3 separate regions of the Homo sapiens genome follow, and all the other regions are linked to region 2. Evidence: fine-mapped expression QTL. A gene starts in region 2. Each other region holds a variant in brackets. All regions are shown on one strand. Distances are between the middles of the regions. Region 1 overlaps PHEX (phosphate regulating endopeptidase X-linked). Region 2 holds the start of PHEX (phosphate regulating endopeptidase X-linked). Region 3 overlaps PHEX (phosphate regulating endopeptidase X-linked).

What was found.
Region 1: its variant is fine-mapped to the expression of PHEX in thyroid (GTEx, PIP above 0.99).
Region 3: its variant is fine-mapped to the expression of PHEX in esophagus muscle (GTEx, PIP above 0.99).

What each region holds. Positions count from the first base shown.
Region 1 is chrX:22,133,067-22,138,066 of GRCh38, reverse strand. It overlaps PHEX (phosphate regulating endopeptidase X-linked), which reads right to left. Exons shown (of 22, transcript NM_000444.6): 12 at 4,443-4,544. Among named protein-coding and RNA genes, the nearest start is that of PHEX-AS1, 37 kb to the left of the region's middle. The variant C/G (reference allele first, on the strand shown) is at 2,557.
Region 2 is chrX:22,029,225-22,034,224 of GRCh38, reverse strand. PHEX (phosphate regulating endopeptidase X-linked) reads right to left here and starts at 1,900. Exons shown (of 22, transcript NM_000444.6): 1 at 1,102-1,900. The coding sequence starts at 1,219.
Region 3 is chrX:22,110,920-22,116,226 of GRCh38, reverse strand. It overlaps PHEX (phosphate regulating endopeptidase X-linked), which reads right to left. Exons shown (of 22, transcript NM_000444.6): 10 at 4,667-4,760; 11 at 1,641-1,769. Among named protein-coding and RNA genes, the nearest start is that of PHEX-AS1, 59 kb to the left of the region's middle. The variant G/A (reference allele first, on the strand shown) is at 3,002.

The DNA of each region.
Region 1 (5,000 bases), 100 kb before region 2:
CAGTCAGCAACGAGTATCTTAGCTAGTATAATAGCTCTAGCCCATTGGAAAAGCTCCCAGAGCCCATGTGGAACACGCACTAGAGGGATGAGGGAGCGGGGGCCACACACAGCAACTCCCATCAACTGTTGGGTGAGGACTTCTGAGGAAGGTGTGGTCATTCCCCGTCCTTTGGGCCCTCTTTATGAGTAGCAAAGCAGGCTGTAGCAGGGAGAGAATGCTCTTGGCCAAAATGCAGGAGGCTGCAGTTGGAAGTCAGGCAGGTGTGCTGTGAAGTGGTAAGGACAAGACAGGGGTTCCCAACCCTTTTCACGCAGCAGAATCACCAGGTAAAACACAAGGCACTGAGCCCTACTCCCAGAGCTCAGCAGGTGGGGATGTGAAAATTTGCATCTCTAATGAGTTCCCAGGGACCACTGCTGCTACTGGTCTGGAACCACACCTTGAGAACCACCAGGCTCCGGATATAAGCAGAGCCCTGACCGCATACCTGGGAGAAGTCCAGTACCTAGGCCTGGTAGAGCTTAGAGACAAAGCCAAAGAAGTGGGCTACACCTCTGTTTCGCCCTCTGCAAGAAAACTCTCACCACCTCACTCAAAGCCTGTGTGTGAGAGTCACATGCCAATAAATTTAGGACCATTCAGCCGACTTCTCTGCACCTGCTGTGGCCAAGGTTAAGGCCACTCCCTCAGAGCATCATTAGGATGCCACCTCCCTGTGAGTCCCATCCTGCTATTTTTCTTTGGATGTGACCTGACAAACTTAGGTCCCAGGGGCAAAGAGCACAAACAAACAAATAATTCCGAAGGGATCCAGCTTTTTGGCTATATAGTCAAATCCAGCTGGAGATAAGCCAAGCTCAGGAAGTTGCTCCTCCTGATCTGACGCTCTCCTGCCAGGTCTCAGTCAGAATCCTGATGTAGCGACCTTGAGATCCTCCTCTTCTACTCTGGCAAGGGCAAATCCTCCAGAAGACACCCCTAAAATCATTATTTTATCACCTGACACTCATTCAACAGCTGTGGTCACCAGAAAAATAACAGATGCCCTGTCCTTTGCTGCTTATTTACAATAAGAGCACATGCTTGCAGGGAACAGAGAATCCTAAACAAAAAGCGGTGCTTATTTCACGATACTAAATTTCCACTTGAAACCTACACCATCAGTTTCACAATACAAAAACTACTCGTGACCTCTTAAGAGATGAGCAGGAAAAGGCAGGGAGACAGAGAAAACAAATTTACCCTTCACGGGAGCAGAGGCATCCTCATTTATCTTTTACAGTGAACACCCCTAGCAAAGAGTACAACAAAGCCACATCCACACACTTCCATTTTGAGACGAGGTCATTGCTACAAAAGCCAAGGTATTAGGCCTCAGAACACTGCAGCTTTCTGTACCTGCCCGGTTCAGGAGGTCGGTCACTATGGAATGCTGAGGTTAACACTTCTTAGGAGGCTCTGTAATTAGCTGCGGTCCAGAGCTTCATGGTGAGGGAAAGAAAAGCTTCTCCCTTTCACAAATCAGAACATTTTTCCAGCTTTCCCAATGGGTTGCCAAGTGACTCAGCATTGGCCCAGTGTGGGCACTATTATTGATGAGAAATCTTCCGCCTGGGTGATACACTGCATACAACACATGCCCAAAGAACAGTGCCAAGTCATACCAGGAAGAGCAGGCGAGTTATTCACCTCCACTTCAAATGCAGGCAAATCCTTTCTTAATGCAGGGGCTACTCAGTATCAGAAAGACAAAACCCTAAGATAGTGGGAGATTTCCATCTAAGATTCAAGGAATTATTAGGCAAAGTCTCTCCTTTCTTGTTGACTATTAAAAGGCAATCAAATCGAGGACAGCAGAGAAAAAGGGCAAGAAATTTTTTTTTTTTCAAAAACAACGCCGGAGTAGAAAGCTGCATAAAAGCTTTCAACGCCGCTAGTGTTCTTTGTGAGTACCACGAGCTCCACCCAGAGGTCATTTTAAGAACTGCATGTTCATTTAATTTTGAGGGGAAAAAAAAAAAAAAAATTTACATCTTCTGGGGTCCAGGAAAGGACCCACTTCAAAGAACTGCTGAAATTGCTTCAACAACATCCATCTTTCTTGCATTTCGTTAAAGAAACTTCTCTGAACTCTGAAATGCAAGATACAGTCGGGGAACTTTGTGAGATCCAATTTGCCTTTGATATTTGTACCTGTCGTGGAACTAGCAGAGTTCCTGGCAGGTTGAACTCAGCTCAAAGAAAGCAGAGTGTTCAAAGAACGCTTTTAGAAGAAAAACTGACAGCTCTCATTGAAATAAAATAGAAGACTGGAGAGCAACTCGGGAGGCAAACAGGAACATGTCTAATATTAGAAGAACTGAGAATAGTCCTGCTTCAAGAAGGACCCATGGGCCACTTGCCGAGAAGGGCCAACTGTGAGGCACCCACTCCCTTATGCCACTCAGAAGAGCTCCCTGAGGCAACTGCAATCCACACTGCTCAAAGAACTGACTGCACTTCCCAGAACATTCCCCTGGCATCCAGCTATTCATAACACATTACCCCCAACAC[C/G]TATACATACACACACACTCCACCCCACCCTCCACCCTGGTGGTCCTGTACTAATTCATGCAAGCACCTCTTCGGTTCATGTGGGGTCAGGCGAGGATAAAGAGCCCTTAATACACTAAGCGCTCAACTGCCCAGGGCAAGACACATCCTGTTCCACATACCACAAGCTAGCTCAGCAAATAAATGAAGCCTTCATAAAACAACAATATGTTGGTGTTGAAAGTTGTCTACCATCTGGAGAGTTTCCCATCACAGCCCATGTGCTCTTGCCTTCATCAGCCTGTGCCTTATGTGACTGAGGACAGCTTTGACAGATTTTTGAAGGGGAAACAAAAAATCAAACCTACTCTTTGTCTTCCTCCAACGCTGCCTTGCCACCCACCATCCCAGTTCTTCCTTCATTATAAACACTGAACAAACGCCTTTTCACATCTACTGACAAAAGTATCTATGGCAATGTTTATCCATCTCCAGTACCATGAGTTTAAAGCACTAGAAAATATCCTTGCTAAAACTCTACGTGTTCTCATTTCAACAAGGTTAAGCATTCCCAGAACGCTGAGGCAAAAATATTTGTGCTCAGTATGACTCAGTATGACTCCAGGCAGTGTTTCCCCAGACCTGCCTAGTGATAACAATCACCCGGAGACTGGCTAAAGTGACAGCTGTTCAGCCTGCATCCATGATCCATTAACCCAGGCCTTGCTGGGAAGGGGCCCAGAAAGCCAGAGCGTCCAGGCAACCCAGGTGATTGTTATACTCAGGAAGCTTTCAAAAATACCTCTAGATACAAGAAATGCTCAGCTGCAGAGAAGCATCCATCAAGAGTCTAGCAGGTATGCTCCACCCACTTGAATTCCAGCTCTATCAGAATCTCTGGAATTCAAAATGGATCCCATTCATTCATTCATTTATTCAGAGATGGAGTCTCGCTCTGTCACCCAGGCTGGAGTGCAGTGGCACGATCTCAACTCACTGCAACCTCCGCCTCCCAGGCTCAAGCGATTCTCCTGCCTCAGCCTCCCGAGTAGCTGGGACTACAGATGCATGCCACCACACCCGACTAATTTTTTTGTATTTTTAGCAGAGATGGGGTTTTGCCATGTTGGCCAGGCTGATCTCAAACTCCTGACCTCAAGTGATCCACCTGCCTCAGCCTCCCAAAGTCCTGGTATTACAGGCGTGAGCCACTGCACCCAGCCCGTTTTCTACTTTTAAACAGCATGGCTGTCAATACTTTTCTCCTTTGTTCCCTTATCGTGTCGCATAGTATCAGAAAATTTTACAAGGCCCAGCAAGTGTCCACTTCTATTAGGAAATACGTTTGTAGTCCTAAGCAATGGTAGAACACTGGTCTGCAGTTTATCAGTATACTATTTGGGTCATTTGTGCCAAATGATGGGTCGGGAAGGAGATATGCTTGGTTACAGGAAAGGATTTGCCCCAGGACATTTGCATGCATCATGCACAGAGCAGAAGGACATGTGGCCAATATGGGTTTTCTTCGTTTTGGTGTCTTAGGGGCTCTTGTTCCAGCTGCTCCCTGTGACTCCCCACTGCTCTGCATTCTGCCATATCCAGTGATGGTTTATGACACAATTCACCAGGCAGCAAGCCATGTGCCTCTTACAGACAGCAATTAGGAGAAAGGAAAGGCCGAATTACAAGGTATTTGAAAATGCAGTTCGAAAAATTCAGGTATTATTTTCTCTTACCTCCTGGTGAAACAAAAATCTATGTATTCATCCAAAAGCAGACAGCTAACTCTGGGGTCATTCAGAGTCAACAGTTCAGTCAATATAAAAACCAACTACACAGTCAATGTCAAGCATGAACATCCATTAAACCAGAAGTCTTATTTTTTTTTCATCAAAAGGAATCCTTACCTTTTCTTTGGCTTTCCTTTTCGTTCCTGCATCCATCCACTCATTTTCTTTCTCTAGCATGTCAATAAAGGCCCAGCGAACGCCCTCAACCAATTCCTCCATCTACAAGAAAATACCCAAAGAGGGAACGTCAAAGCCAAGAAGCTTCAGTCGAGGTTTTCTGGAACAAAATTGGCTTGCATGAGAAATGACTCTTTACTCAACATGGTAAGTAAGGGGTTCTTTCAGCTTGACTCCATGCTCTGGCAACACTTCTTTTTCCAGGAAAATTCCCTTTTTTCCACCACTAAAAGATAACTAACCAGGCCCAGCATGGTGGCTCATGCCTGTAATCCCAACAATTTGGGAGGCCAAGGCAGGTGGATCACTTGAGCCCAGGAGTTTGAGACCAGCGCGGACAACATGGTGAAACCCCATCTCTACCAAAAATATAAAAATTAGCTGGGCATGGTGGCTCATGCCTGTAATCCCAGGACTTTGGGAGGCTGAGATGAGCAGATCCCTTGAGCCCAGGAGTTCAAGACCAACATGGGCAACATGGCAAAACCCCATCTCTAC
Region 2 (5,000 bases):
TCAGCAGAGGACCCTTGTTTAAACCCTAAGTGCTGAGAAATCTTACAAGAGTTTTCAAGAGCCACAGATTCAGTTGCAGGAGTAGGAGATTTCGCTTTATCAGAAAGCAATAAACCCATCTAATTTCCTAAATCTTCAGCCACAGAAAGCGTGGAAAGATGGTTTGCTCATTTTAGCAGTTTTCAACCACACAACCCTAACTCTTTTAAAGTTTAATTACTGGTTTACCCCTGCCAAAATAAACATGGCCTCCTGCAGGTTTGCTACATTTCAAACTGCACCTAGAATCTCCTCGTTCCTATGTAACGTTCAAGTTAATGAAGTATTATGGGTTGTATGAGAAAAATTAAAACGGTAATAGTCAAGGGTTCAGAAAGCCTAGAATTTTAGAAAATCCCTCACTCCTTTCCAAGATATTTGATTCTTTTTCATGGGAATACACTTCTATCATCCTATATACTCTCTGGGTACATCATTCTCACCAACAGTCATTAAAATAACTGAATCACAATATCTTTCAAATCTTGGGGGAAAACCTCTGTTTTCCTTCATATTAATTTGTAAATCAAATTGCATCTCACCAGAGTCACTGGATAAGAAAGGAATTGAAGAATATCATTAAAAGCACACTTTAAAGGACTGATTTGTGTTTTGTGAATTAAATTTCATGATTCGTTCAAGCAAACATTAATAAAAGTCAAATGGAAAGACACTCCAGCATGGTTTTCATCACAATGTAAAGTCTTTCCTCAAAATATAAATGAAACTATGTGACTATGAATTCACAAACACTCATTTTGCTAAATGTACCACATAAAAAATTTTCCACCCAATGCAACAGAATCAGCCAGCCACTCGAAGCCACTTACACCCACTTTGCCTTCTGGACTATACATTTGGTACTTGGGTGTATTTATTTATTTAGGCTCCTTAAAAAAGCCTTCTTTATCATTTGCATATTTGATAGAAACTAAAGATACACCACCTATGAACGCAGGCAAACAGCCCTATACCTGTGTTATGACAAGTTTTGCTACAATAAAGCACAAGGAAACTTCTCGACACACACCCAGTTCCCCCGGCCTCCTGCACTCCACTTACCTAGAAAGAGGATCGTGCCCAGAACTAGGGTGCCACCGACAAACACGACCAGGGCAATTCGAGTGCCTCTGTTGGCCTTCTTTCCAGTCTCCACGCTGCTCCCTGTTTCTGCTTCCATCAGAAGGGCCGTAGAGAGCACACGAGAAGAAAGTCACTTTTCGTGGTTTGGTGGCTGGTCTCAAGAGCGAGGCGTTGACATCCAAGGCTTTCTTGCTCTTCTACTAATGGACAGCTTAAGAAACTGCCGTCAGGAAATCTCCCCTCGCCACCCTTTCTCAAATAATTCTTCACAAATGAAAATTATAAAAACCAAAATATTGGTTGCCTTGGCTTTCCCCCTGACTAGACAAAACAAACAGTGTTGCTTTATCTTGGTGCTCTCCCTCAGCAAAGTCCCTGTTTGGCAGGCTCTTCTCTCAAGCGTTCCGAGTATATATGTTTTACTATGTTGCTGAACAGATGTTTTAGCTATTTAAATGTATAGTCACTTGGGGAGGAAAAAAACAATTGTTTTATCAAAACTGGATTCTCGTGAAACTCCCCCAAATCATGATAAGTTAGGTGGCCAGGATTCACCGGACCCACTTCAAGATCTCAATTAATCATGTAATTCTGTTGCAAGAATCATTCTGCTTGCCTGAATTGTCTTCATCAAAGATATTCTTTCAGTGTGTGAGTCCCTTTTTAAAGCCTTCTAAGAGTTCCTAGGATATCCTGGAGCATTTTATTTCAGGAACTTTGTGTATGATAGCATGTGCCAAAAATCAGTCATAGTCCAGTGCAGTGCAAAGTAGCAATTAAGACAACCTACAGAGGCTGATGGTTTGAACTGGAACTTTTTCTTAAAGGAAGGAGAAAAAGCACTTCCTCTTTGTGGTACTAAGAAGTGTACAAAAAAAAAAACCCACAAAAAAACACAAGTGCGTGAATTAAGTTTATTAGCAACTACAAAAGATATGATGAAAAATTTTTTCCTTGTGTGTTTTTGATGAAAAGTGCACCATGTGTTTTGTCTGCCACTCCTACTGAGGCAGCCATTCATTAGGATGTTTTTGTGTTTACATAAACTGTCCACTTCAGCAGATTCCCCAGGATGAATTCAAAGGCAATTGGTTTCAGGCCGGGCGTAGTGGCCCACGCCTGTAATCCCAGCACTTTGGGAGGCTGAGGCAGGGGGCTCGCTTGAGGCCAGGAGTTCGAGACCAGCCTGGCCAACAAGGCGAAACCTTGTTTGTACTAAAAACACAAAAATTAGCCGGGCATGTTGGTGAGCACCTGTATTCCCAGCTACTCAGGAGGCAGAGGTGGGAGAATCGCTTGAGCCTGGGAGGTGGAGGTTGCAGTGAGCCAGATCGCGCCACTGCACTCTAACCTGGGTGACAGAGAGAGAGACCCTGTCTCAAAAATAAACAAACAAAAAACAAAGGCAGTTGACTTCACTGGAAAGACTGATGAATGACTGGGTCTTTGATATTTTTGATTATGATAATGATTTAAACGATAACAATGTGCTTTCTTCATGGGGAAGGGCAACTGATATTCCAATGCTACCACTGAAATGATATAGATTTTATTATCCAAAGATATAGATATCGTTAACTCACAACACAATTACTACCTACCTGCTTTTGTTTTGCTGGAGGTCATAGGGCAGTGGGAGTGGGGGTGGAGAATTCAACTATATCTAGAAACCAGTAGAGCAATTATCTCAATGCAAAACTTGTGCGCATGGCTTTAGAGGTGACACAGGAGCTCAGCAGGTGCTGATGAGCTCAGTATAACATGGCCACACATTCATGGTCCTGTCTGGCTTGTCTTGGTCAGGGCTTAAGCCCTTAGCATGGGATTCTCTCAAGTTTTGGGGCTTATTCCATAATATACCTTACTTTCTGCTCATTTCATGTTGCGCCAAAGTCAGGGGGTCACAAGCCTTTGTCCAAGTTATGACATCATGGTGTGTTGTAGTTATCCTGTGCTCATTGGCTGTTGACATTATTTTGTTGCTGTTATTCCATAACACACCCTAGCAGGACTTTGGCCCCTAGTATGGGATTCTCCCAAGAGTTTTTGGACCTCACTCTAGAACACATCTTAGACCATGAGTTCCACAAAGTCAGGAACCATGTTCAATGTTGCAGCTCCAACATCGACATTTCCTGGCCCTTCACAGTGAAAAGGAGAGCAATAAAAATCATACAAGTTAGCCCTAGCCACTTACTCTTAACAACCAGCTTCAGCTGGGCGCAGTGGCTCACGCCTGTAATCCCAGTACTTTGGGAGGCCAAGGCGGGTGGATCACGAGGTCAGGAGTTCGAGACCAGCCTGGCCAACATGGTGAAACCCTGTCTCTACTAAAAATACAAAAAATAGCCGGGCGTGGTAGCAGGCGCCTGTAATCCCAGCTACTCAGGAGACTGAGGCAGGAGAGTTGCTTGAACTCAGGAGGCGGGTTGCAGCGAGCTGAGATCATGCCACTGAACTCTAGTCTGGGCGGCAGAGCAAGACTGTCTGGAAAAAAACAAATACAAAACAAAACAAAACAAAAAACCAACTTCGGGGCCAGAAGTGGTGGCTCACACCTGTAATCCCAACACTTTGGGAGGCTGAGGTGGGCAGATCACTCTAAGTCAGGAGTTCGAGATCTGCCTGGCCAATGTGGCGAAACCCTGTCTCTACTAAAAATACAAAAATTAGCCAGGTGTGGTGGCACGTGACTGTAATCCCAGCTACTCGGGGAAGCTGAGGCACAAAAATCGCTTGGACCTGGGAAGTGGAGGCTGCAGTGAGCTGAGATTGAGCCACTGCACTCCAGCCTGGGTGACAGAATGAAACTGTGTCTCAAAAAAACCAAAAGGCCAAGGTGGGTGGATCACCTGAGGTCAGGAGTTCGAGATCAGCCTGGCCAACATGGCGAAACCCCGACTCTACTGAAAGTACAAAAATTAGCCGGAGGTGGTGGTGGATGCCTGTAATGCCAGCTACTCGGGAGGCTGAGGCAGGAGAATCGGAGAATCACTGGAACCCGGGAGGCGGAGGTTGCAGTGAGCTGAGATCGCAGTACTGCACTCCAGCCTGGGCAACAGAGCGAGACCCCATCTCAAAACAACAACAACGACAACAACAACAACAAACAACAAACAACCAGCTTCAGCTTCAGGAACCTCACATGCTAATGTCTGCGGGGGGAGGAAGGGTGTCATCTTTCAAGGCCCTAATTATTCCTTCTCAATGCTCAACTAAAAGTGATACTTCATATAGGCATAGCACATTCGCTTTAACCTCATGGTAAATCTACATACTTGATAGCAAAGGTATTTTAACTCTGTTTCACAAATAAGGACACTGAGACCAAGGAATGGCCTCAGGTGGCATGGGAAAATCACAAATGGATAGATGGGGGATGGGATCATTGCCATACATGGCATGTCTGCTGCTTGACAAAGCTTCCTGTGCACAGCGAGAGGACAGTCACCCAAGCACGACACCAGGACTCACTTCTTTCCTCTTTCCTTCCTCCTCTCAATCTCCTCACAACTTTCAGTGTCCCCACTGACATTGAATAGTGGCCGTGAGTTCCTAGCTGGAGTAGCCTTCACCTGCCTTGAACTTGCAATTCCCCCAGAGGTGAGGGCAATTTGGGGATTCCCTGAAGTTATACCTACCCATCACTTACCGACAGGAATTCATTCCTGAACGGTCAACTGCTGAGTGAAAAGCCATTAAACCAAAAAAAATACTTTCATTAATTGTAATAGGAAAATTATGATGCATTCTATCCCAAACTAAGATATGCAAACACAGATAGAAAAATGTATTCATTTAACTTAATTGTAAATTTAAAAATAACTGAAAGACTGCCATTGGATTGTTTGTAACACTAAGGATAAATGCTTGAGGGG
Region 3 (5,307 bases), 82 kb before region 2:
TGAAAAGGTTTTCATCACTAATCATCAGGGAAATGCAAATCAAACCATAATGAAATAGCACTTCACTACCTGTTAGGATGGCTATGATCAAAAATTTAAGAGGTAAGTGTTGGCAAAATATTCCTGGAAAAAAAGGAAACGCTCATATACTGTTGGTAAGAATGTAAACTGGTACAGCCATTATGGAAAATAGCATGGAAAATCTTCAAAAAAATAAAAATAGGACTACCATTCAATCCAGCCATCCCACTACTGGGTATATATCCAAAGTAAGTAAAATCAGTATATGGAAGAAAGATCTGCACCTTCATGTTCATTGCAGCATTATTCATAATAGCCAAGATATGGAATAAACCTAAATACCCTTCAATGGATAAATACATAAGGAAACTGCGATGTGTGCATGTGTGTACCACACAATGGAATATTTGGCCATAAAAATGAAGAAATGAAGAAAATCCTGCCTTTTGCAACAGCATAGATAAAGCCAGAGGACATTATGCTAAGTGAAATAAGCCAGGCACAGAAAGACAAATATTATATGATCTCACTTATATGTAGAATCTTTATAAAAGTTAAAATATAGAAGCAGAGAGTAGAACAGTAGTTGCCAGGGGCTGGGGGCAGGGAAATGGGGAGATATTGATCAAAGGGTACAAACTTCTAGTTCTAAGATGAATAAGTTATGGGGATCTAAAATATGGCATGGTGACTATAGTTACTAATAATGTATTGTATACTTGAATTTGCTAAGACAGTAAATCTTAAGTGTCCTCATCCCCCACCACCACACACACAATGGTAAATAAGTGTGACAACAGATGTGTTCATTTGATTGTGGCAACCATTTCACAATGTATGTCAAATCATCATCTTGTATACTTTGTGTTTGTTTTGAGACAGAGTCTCGCTCTGTCGCCTTGGCTGAAGGGCAGTGGCGCGATCTCGGCTCACTGCAACCTCCGCCTCCGGGGTTCAAGCAATTCTCCTGCCTCAGCCTCCCAAATAGCTGGGATTACAGGTGCCTGCCACCACGCCCAGATAAATTTTGTATTTTTTTTAGTAGAGATGGGGTTTTACCATGTTGGCCAGGCTGGCCTCAAACTCCTGACCTCAAGTGATCTGCCCGGCTTAGCCTCTCAAAGTACTAGGATTACAGGTGTGAGCCACTGCGCCCGGCCGTATACTTCGAATATATACAATTGTTATTAGTCAAATGCATCTCAATAAAGCTGAAAGAAAAAAAAATACACCCTTTTCTCCAATGCAGTTGAAACAGATGGAGAAGAACACGTTGCCACAGTGATGAGTCCCTCTTTAAATTCAATACCTCAAACCTCACCTACATCTGGACATGCCTGCCCTCAAGCAGCTATACTACATTCCCTCAGTTTATTCACTCTCCCACTCCCCTGGAAAACTACACACCTTCTCTCTCCTCTAACCTTCAATACCTGCTAACTCATCCTCACTCTCGTTTGATGACCTTTCTTCCTATTTCACTTAGAAGTTGAAAGAATCTGAAGACAATACCCACAGGCCACTACCACCTGGAAGGCTGACATTAGCCTGTTGAATATACCCTTGTCAGATCTGGCTAAATTGCCATTATTTTTTGCTAGCTGGGGAGTACCACTTACCATTTCCTTCTTATCTTCCTGGAAGTACACATCTACAAACATCTTTCCAACAACATAAGGGAGGGCACTTTCAATAAAGTTTACACATTTGTCCCATTGAGGCAGCAAAGTTGTGGTCCCCTGGATTACCTGTGGGAGATAATTGATCCAGATTAAACTTCATTTGGATAAAACCCATGGCTGAAAACAATTCAAACAACCTGAAGAAAACAGTCTACAAAACACTGCACACCCTAACCCATATATATGCATCAGATAGTAGAGGCAAAGGTAAAATAGTTGAAGAAAAAAATTCTGCTTGTCCCCATTATATTTCAAACTAAATGAAAATGTTTTAGGCCGGTCAAAGTGGCTCACATCTGTAATCCCAGCACTTTAAGAAGCCCAGGTGAGCAGATCACCTGAGGTCAGGAGCTCGAGACCAGCCTGGCCAACATGGTGAAACCCCGTGCTTACTAAAAACACAAAAATTAGCCGGGCACGGTGGTGCATGCCTGTAATCCCAGCTACTTGGGAGGCTGAGGTGGGAGAATTGTGTGAACCCAGGAAGCGGTGGTTGCAGTGAGCTGAGATTGGGCCACTGCACTCCAGCCTGGGCAATAGAGTGAGACTCTGTCTGGAAAAAAAAAAAAAAAAAAAAAAAGAAGAAGAAGAAAAGAAAGTGATTTAACAGTTAAAATAATATATGTATCCTTTCTTCCCAATTTTCCCCATTAAACAAAGAATCTGGACAATGGTATCACTTTTCTGCAGTCAGCAGGGACATGAGAGGATGCTATCCAAGTGTCTAGATAATATTTAATATCTCCTGAGAACTAAAGTTCCACTAAGAAGGTCTAGAATCAGTGGGTGATCAAAGTTCCTGCCCAGTGAGGGTTTCCTTGCTCCGAGTAGCACACTCAACAAGGCAGACCAGAAGAACATGGCCCACCATGAACAACACAGGGAGCATATTTACATTGTGTCACAGCAAAAAACACACTGATAAACAAGCAAAATACAGATGTAAATGCTTTGCCCATCTGTCCCAATTATACCATTGCAAGAAAACATTTACAAACAAGTAAGAAGTTTCCCAAGCAGGACCTGGGTCAGAGGTTTACTCTTGGGAATAAAAGCAGAGAAATAAATATAGTGTAAGTTGCCCTTGGAAGCTGGGGGTGCAGGCAGGGAGGAAGGGAGGCCCTGAGAATGGTGGTCAGAAGTGTCCTTTGCACAATGTTAGACCCAGGTTGTTTTGAGGAATGGGATTAAGGCTTAATTTCATCTATTCTTCCTCTGATTTCTGGTAACCTCTCTCAGAGGTAAGCGATGAATCTATTTTTAAAACCTCTAGAGAAAGAGATCCTACAACCTTCTTC[G/A]GCAATTCAATATTATATTTAGCACTTCGTGCTCAAGAAACATCCCCTCATACCTAACCTTAAATGTTCACACAGTGCTTCTTACACCTCTCTCATTCTCTTCACAGTAGGGGTGGAAAGCAGCTGGGCATCATCTTTTATGTGATTCGTAGCAGTTAAAAATACACACAAACACACACACACACACACACACACACACACACACACACACACACACACAAAACCTACTTGTTTTGTATCTTAACCCATCAATATGACCTAAATATATATATAGTTGTTTTATGCTGTTCTCTGTAAAAAAGACTTTTTTTCTTTTTTTTGAGACGGAGTCTTGCTCTGTTGCCCAGGCTGGAGTGCATTGGTGCCATCATCTCAGTTCACTGTAGCCTCCGCCTCCCGGATTCAAGCAATTCTCCTGCCTCAGCCCCCCGAGTAGCTGGGACCACAGGTGCGTGACACCATGCCCGGCTAATTTTTGTATTTTTTGTAGAGACGAGGTTTCACCACGTTGGCCAGGCTGGTCTCAAACTCCTGACCTCAATTTGCCTGCCTTGGCCTCCCAAAGTGCTGGGATTACAGGTGTGAGCCACTGCACCCAGCCCTAAAGTAACTTTATATGCTAGTGACTTTATAGGGTCAAAGCATATCCAAAATAATTGCACTACTCTTCCAGAGTAATGGCCCACTAAGAATTTCTATACTTATTAGTTCCTCTAATAACTAAAATGCCTCTTGAATGAAATCATAGCTTATAAGATTCACCATTCACTTAACTTTAAATTGATAGAAAAATAAAAACTGTTTCAAAGATACAAAATCCTTACGGCCTCTAGTGGTAGGAGAATTAGTCAGACATAAGCCTCAAAAACAAAGGTGAGAGTAACATGGGTACAAACTGGGAGACGAGCAAGGGTGGGAGAGAAGCAAAGGTTAAAGAGCCAGGTGAGGCCCGGCACAGTGGCTCGTGCCTTTAATCCCAGCACTTTGGGAAGCTGAGGTGAGAGGATCACTTGAGCTCTGGAGTTCAAGACAAGCCTGGGCAACATGGCAAGACCCCATCTCTAATAAAAATAAATAAATAAAGAGCCAGGTGAGCAGGTGGAGGAAAACCATCTCAGACAGTTGAGCAAGAAAACTAAATTGGAGCCTCTTGGACCTAGCAGAGGATAGATTCAAAGATGGAAGGTATAGGCAAAGTTTAAGACAAAATTCCATTTCCAAATTGAAAATGAAGTTCTACCATCCAATATCTCTATCATGCACATTTTAAATATTCAGAATACTGAGAATAAAAGATAGTTACAAATATATCACAAAGAAATGTTAAAACTATAATTACAGTGACCCAGTTAAAAACTCTGGGGGAAAATGGGAATACACTAATAAGACGGGGAAGTTTGAAAACAATGTGTGGCCTCAAGTATTTCTCTAAATATCTTTATATAACCCATCAAAGTAAAACTTGAGTGTACCTTACCATATGTAATTTATACCTAAATAAAAATAAATAAGGCACACACACACACACAAAAACAATAGAGCTTGGGCTACAAACTCCCCCTGTCTAATCCCTAAAGATGATTTTTACTGGATCAGTTAATATATGGACTATTCCAGCATGTAAAGTTATCCAGCGATGTAACACTGCAATCTTCTTAAACTTACCCTTGAGAATTCCAGCCATCTATACTGAAAGCGCCTGCTAAGGTTTGGAATTCTGGAATAAACCATTCTCCACACCAAATAGTTGGCAATGGTCCTGTTAACAGAGAGAGATGCCCATTTATTGTATTTTAGGTCAATATCTGATGCTCTGCAGAACATCTTGAGAGAAACAGTTGGCAAAGCTCCATCGAGGGACCTCTTACTCATACAAAAATGCAGAACTTTCACTTGAGAAATGACATAAGATGATACAATGTCAATAAGCACAACCAAAATTGGCTTGCTTTTCACCACCTAACAGAGATAGATGAAGGAAAGATTCCAGCTCCAGCCCTCAGAGTGAACATTTTACTTTCACTCTCAGGGTATAAAGTCCACTGTTACACAGCCTTTCGTGTCTGGAAATTGTGAGTACCTTCAAATTACAGCAGATCCTCGAATAACATCATTTCATTCAACATCCTTTTGTTATACAGTTGATAAGGAAAAAACCAATTCTGGGCCAGGGTCACTGTCTGTGTAGAGTTTGCACATTCTCCTCAAGTCTGCACAGGTTTTCTCTGGGTGCTGTGGTTTCCTCCCACATCCCAAAGATGTGCCTGCTAGGTTAATCGGCGTGTCTACACATTCCCAGTGTGAGT